2 separate regions of the Homo sapiens genome follow, and region 2 is linked to region 1. The links come from fine-mapping of genetic effects on gene expression. A gene starts in region 1. The other region holds a variant in brackets. All regions are shown on one strand. Distances are between the middles of the regions. Region 1 holds the start of AP1M2 (adaptor related protein complex 1 subunit mu 2). Region 2 overlaps SLC44A2 (solute carrier family 44 member 2 (CTL2 blood group)).

Region 1 (2,911 bases):
GGAATATTATTTTCACCACCACTCTTATTTTGGCTATTAAATGACAAGACAGGCTGACTGCAGTGGCTCACACCTGTCATCCGAACACTTTGGGAGGCTGAAGCAGGGGGATAGCTGGGGACCAGGAGTTCAAGACCATCCTGGACAACATAGCAAGACTCCATCTGTACAAAAAAATAAAAATAAAAAATAGGCCGGGTGCGGCCGGGCGCAGTGGCTCATGTCTGTAATCCCAGCACTTTGGGAGGCCGAGGTGGGCGGATCACGAGGTCAAGAGATTGAGACCATCCTGCCCAACATGGTGAAACCCCATCTCTACTAAAGATACAAAAAATTAGCCGGGCGTGATGGTGCGCGCCTGTAATCCCAGCTACTCAGGAGGCTGAGGAAGGAGAATCACTTGAACCTGGGAGGTGGAGGTTGCAGTGAGCCAAGATCATGCCATTGCACTCCAGCCTGGGTGACAAGGCGAGACTCTGTCTTGAAAAAAAAAAAAAATACAAAAATTAGCCAGGCATGGTGGCATGCACCTGTAGTCCCAGCTACTCGGGAGGCTGAGGCAGGAGAATTGCTTCAACCCGGGAGGTGGAGGTTGCAGTGAGCCAAGATGGAGCCACTGCACTCCAGCCTGGGTGACAGAGCAAGACTCTATTTAAAAAAAAAAAAAAAAAAAAATTAAAAATAGCCGGGCATGGAGGGGTCAGCCCGCAGCCCCAGATATTCAGGAGTTTGAGAGCAGCTTTGGCAACATAGCGGGATCCCTCTACAAAAAAATGTCAAGAATTAGCCAGGCATGGTGGCCTGCACCTGTGTAGTCACAGCTACTCCGGAGACTGAGGCAGGAGGATCGCTTGAGCCCAGGAATTCCAGGCTGCAGTGAGCTATGATCGCACCACTGCACTCAAGCCTGGGAGACAGCAAGAGACCCTGTCTCCAAAATAAAAAAAGACAAGAGGAATAAAAGGACTTCAGGAAGAGGCAAGGCAGCCACAGATGGGGGGAGTTAGAGGCCCCTGTTCCAGTTGCCTTCCCCAGGTATTAACACTGTGGATGCCGACAGTGATGGAGATAATTTCAATTTGCTGAGTCCCTAATATTTCCAGAAAGGCCACTATGCTAAGTAGTTTACACGCAGCGAGTTGTATTAATTCTCATTGGGTGGGGACCTCTGTTGCTCCCATTTTTACATACAGAGAAACTGAGGCCCTAGGAGGCGAACCCCTTGGCCTCAGGCACAAGGCGAGTGGATGCTGGAGGTGGGATTCCCAGGGATTGCAGGGGGAGGGGGTGTTCCCAGACCTCTTCCTGGCCCGCGCGGAGGGGTCGCCCCTGAATCCCTGGGAGCGAGACCTCACCTGTCCGTCTCCCAACTCCTCATGCCCAGCCTCACCTTGCCCTTAACGTCCAGAATGAAGACAGCCGAGGCGGACATGGTGGCGGCCGAAGGACTTAGGAGTCGGGGAGGGAGCGCCGGGAGGCGATGGCGGCGCCGCTTCCTTCTTCCTGCGGAAGCGCCTGCGCCCAGGTGAGAGCCCAGGTGTGTGCGTCTTAAAGGGGAGGCGGCCAGGTGAGCAGCGCTGTCGGCCAACTTGAAGATGGCTGCGGGGCCGGGAGAGGTACTGCGACTTCAGATGGGTCTGCTGCCCCCCTTCACTTTCCCTAGCCACCCAGGAGTAATGACGGGTGGAGACCCCAAACCAATCAACCATCCTTCCATCCATTCATTCATCCTTCCTTTCATTCATCTATCCATCCATTCGTCCATCCATCCATTCATTCTTGCATTCATTAATCCATCCACGCATCCACTCATTTAGCCATTCATTAATCCATCTTCCATCGATTCATTGATCCATCCTTCCATTCGTCATCCATTTCTTCATCCATTTTTGCATTCATTTATTTGTTCGTCTATCCATTATCCATTCATCCATCCATTTATTCATCCATTCATTCATCCCTTCTTGCATTCATTCATTTATTCATCTTTCCATTCATCCATCCATTCATCCATTCTAACATTCATCAATTTATTCATCTATCCATCCATCCATCCATCCGTTCATCCATTCTTGCATCATTAATTTATTCATCTATCCATTCATCAATCCATCCATCCATCCATTCTTGCATTCATTAATTTATTCATCTATCCATTCATCCACCCATCTATCCATTCATTCATCCTCTCATTGATTCATCCATCCATTCACCTTCTTTCTCCTCTGTCTCACCCACACACGTCAGCCCCCATACAGCAGGGACTTTGTCTTGTTCATGTTTATGTCCCTAGTGCTCAGCACTGGGTGCTCAAAATTTGCCCAATTCATTCATTCACTCATTCATATAATAATTTTCACTGGTGAATTTTACTGACTGAATTTGAAATATTCATTCACTCAGTAACAGGAACTGTGGATATAATTCCGAGCAGGACAAATGTACTTGCTTTTATTATTCTTACAAATTTACTCTTATTCATTTCAAATAAAAAATTTATTTTTTTTTGTTTTTTGAAATGGAGTCTCACTCTGTTGCCCATGCTGGAGTGCAGTGGAATGATTTTGGCTCACTGCAACCTCCACCTCCCAGGTTCAAGCAATCCTCCTGCCTCAGCACCCCTAGTAGCTGGGATTACAGGCAAGCGCCACCATGCCCAGCTAATTTTTTTTTTTTTTTAGACTCCAGGCTGGAGTGCAGTGGCATGATCTCTACTCACTACAACCTCCGCTTCCCGGGTTCAAGGGATTCTGCTGCCTCAGCCTCCCAAGTAGCTGGGATTACAGGTATGCGCCATCACGCCTGGCTAATTTTGTATTTTTAATAGAGATGGGGTTTCACCATGTTGGCCAGGCTGGTCTCGAACTCCCGACCTCAGGTGATCCACCCGCCTCAGCGTCCCAAAGGGCTG
Region 2 (2,911 bases), 47 kb after region 1:
CCATGGCGCGATCTTGGCTCACTGCAACCTCCGCCTCCTGGGTCCAAGCTATTCTCCTGCCTCAGCCTCCCAAGTAGCTGGGATTACAGGCATGCACCTCCATGCCCGGCTGATTTCGTATTTTTAGTAGAGATGGGGTTTCTCCATGTTGGTCAGGCTGGTCTCGACCTCCTGGCCTCAGGAGATCTGCCCGCTTCAGCCTCCCAAAGTGCTAGGATTACAGGCAGGAGCCACCGCGCCCGGACTGCTTCAATTTATTTCTCTATAAAATGAGGGTAATTCATATTTCTAGTTGGCAAACTAAATGACAAGGAGGTAATGAGCAGATAAAATATGGGTAGGGGCCTGTTTAGTTCAGGCCTGTGGAATCCAGAGGCACAATATCGTGCTCAACAAAACAGTGCTTCATATTTTGGATTTTTGTTGTTTTTGAGTTGTTGTTTTGTTGTTGTTGTTGAGACGGAGTCTTGCTTTGTCACCCAGGCTGGCGTGCAGTGGTGCAGTCTCGGCTCACTGCAATCTCTGCCTCCCGGGTTCAAGCAATTTTCCTACCTCGCCTCCCGAGTATCTGGGATTACAGGCGCACACCACCATGCCCGGCTAATTTTTTTTGTATTTTTAGTAGAGATGGGGTTTTACCATATTGGCCAGGCTGGTCTCGACTTCCTCGTGATCTGCCTGCCTCGACCTCCCAAAGTGCTGGGATTACAGACGTGAGCCACCGCGCCCAGCCTTGATTTGTTTTTTGAGACAGAGTCTCACTCTGTCACCCAGGCTGGAGTTCAGTGGCACAATCACAGCTCACTGCAGCCTTGACCTCCTGGGCTCAAGTGATCCTCCCGTCTTGGCCTCCCAAGTAGCTGAAACCACAGGCAAGCACCATCATGCCTGGCTAAATTTTTAATATTTTTGTAGAGACAGGTTCTCCCTATGTGGCCCAGGCTAGTCTTGAACTCCTGAGCTTGAGCAGTCCTCCCGCCTTGGCCTCCCTAAGTGTTGGGATTACAGGCGCAAGCCACTGTGCCTGGCCCATATTTTGATTATTCCTTGAACTTTCCTGGAAGAAAAATGCTTGGCAATCCAATTTGAGGACACTCATAGTAAAATATTCATATTAATAGTGGTTTCTAGCTGGGTGCGGTGGCGCACGCCTGTAATCCCAGCAATTTGGGAGACAGAGGTGGGCGGATCACCTGAGGTTGGGAGTTCGAGACCAGCCTGACCAACATGTAGAAACCCCATCTCTATTTTTTTTTTTTTTTGAGACAGAGTCTCTCACTGTCGCCCAGGCTGGAGTGCAGTGGCGCGATCTCAGCTCACTGCAACCTCCGCCTCCCGGGTTCAAGCAATTCTCCTACCTCAGTCTCCTGAGTAGCTGAGATTACTGGCGCCCACCACCACGCCCAGCTAATTTTTTTTTTTTTTTTTTTTTTTTGTATTTTTAGTAGACACGGGGTTTCACCATGTTGGTCAGGCTGGTCTCGAACTCCTGACCTCGTGATCCACCCGTCTTGGCCTCCCAAAGTGCTGGGATTACAGGCGTGAGCCACCGCGCCCGGCCAACCCCATCTCTATTAAAAATACAAAATTAGCCGGGCATGGTGGC[G/A]CATGCCTGTAATCCCAGCTGCTCGGGAAGCTGAGGCAGGAGAATCGCTTGAACCCGTGAAGTGGAGGTTGCGGTGAGCCGAGATTGTGCCATTGAACTCCAGCCTGGGCAACAAGAGTGAAACTCCGTCTCAAAAAAAAAAAAAAAGAGAGAGAACTTAGACCATGGCAGCATATGATTATGATTCCAAGTAGGGGGAAAGGGTTCTGGAAGTTCTCTTCTGAAGGTGACACTTGAGCAGAGACCTAAGGATGTGTGGGATCCAGCCATGGGGAGAGAATGCACCGGGCGGTGGGAACTGCAAGTGTAAAGTCCCTGAGGCAGAAGCCTCGATGTTTGCTTCTGTTAAATGGGGGCAGTTGTAGCTGCTTTGCAAAGTTGCAGGAGGCACTGCTGGACTGAGCTTGTGGTTCCCCCATGCAGGAATATTTCACTGCTACATGGAGTACTCCCGACTGCGTGGTGAGGCCGGCTCTGATGTCTCTTTGGTGGACCTCGGCTTTCAGACGGATTTCCGGGTGTACCTGCACTTACGGCAGACCTGGTTGGCCTTTAGTGAGTCACAGTCTCCCATTCCTGCCCCCACATGAGGCCTTGGAGGGAGTGGGGAGCCCAGCCGGCTCAGCCTTTGCCCTTTGCAGTGATCATTCTGAGTATCCTTGAAGTCATTATCATCTTGCTGCTCATCTTTCTCCGGAAGAGAATTCTCATCGCGATTGCACTCATCAAAGAAGCCAGCAGGTGGGGGGCCAGGGTGCCAGGGGCCAGGATGGAGCTGTCCCTAGAGTTGTGTCTTTTGCCCTGACGCCTGTGTCTCTGCTCTTCCCTAGGGCTGTGGGATACGTCATGTGCTCCTTGCTCTACCCACTGGTCACCTTCTTCTTGCTGTGCCTCTGCATCGCCTACTGGGCCAGCACTGCTGTGTATCTGCCCCCAGACACTGATCTCTGACCCCAGGGATGGCTAAAGACCAACTTTGCCTAGAAGTGACCTGCAGCTTAGGGATAGGGCTGGAAACTGGTGGGAGAATGGATTCTTTCCCACAAAAGTCCCTGGGGTCCTCAGTCCTAGACCTCTGCTTCCTTAACGAACCTCCAGCTTCCTGTCCACTTCCAACGAAGCGGTCTATAAGATCTTTGATGACAGCCCCTGCCCATTTACTGCGAAAACCTGCAACCCAGAGGTGGGCGTCCCCGGGGTGGGGAGGGCAGGTATTGCCCCAGCAGGCCCCAGATGATTTGAAACCTCTCATGTCCACTTGGAGGTTCAGCAAACAATTGGCCCCTGTTGCATGTCCTGTGCTAG

What was found.
Region 2: its variant is fine-mapped to the expression of AP1M2 in whole blood (TOPMed, PIP 0.92).

Annotation. Positions count from the first base shown.
Region 1 is chr19:10,585,800-10,588,710 of GRCh38, forward strand. AP1M2 (adaptor related protein complex 1 subunit mu 2) reads right to left here and starts at 1,513. Exons shown (of 12, transcript NM_005498.5): 1 at 1,391-1,513. The coding sequence starts at 1,432.
Region 2 is chr19:10,632,727-10,635,637 of GRCh38, forward strand. It overlaps SLC44A2 (solute carrier family 44 member 2 (CTL2 blood group)), which reads left to right. Exons shown (of 22, transcript NM_020428.4): 11 at 2,030-2,161; 12 at 2,248-2,347; 13 at 2,437-2,529; 14 at 2,705-2,789. Among named protein-coding and RNA genes, the nearest start is that of SLC44A2, 8.6 kb to the left of the region's middle. The variant G/A (reference allele first, on the strand shown) is at 1,607.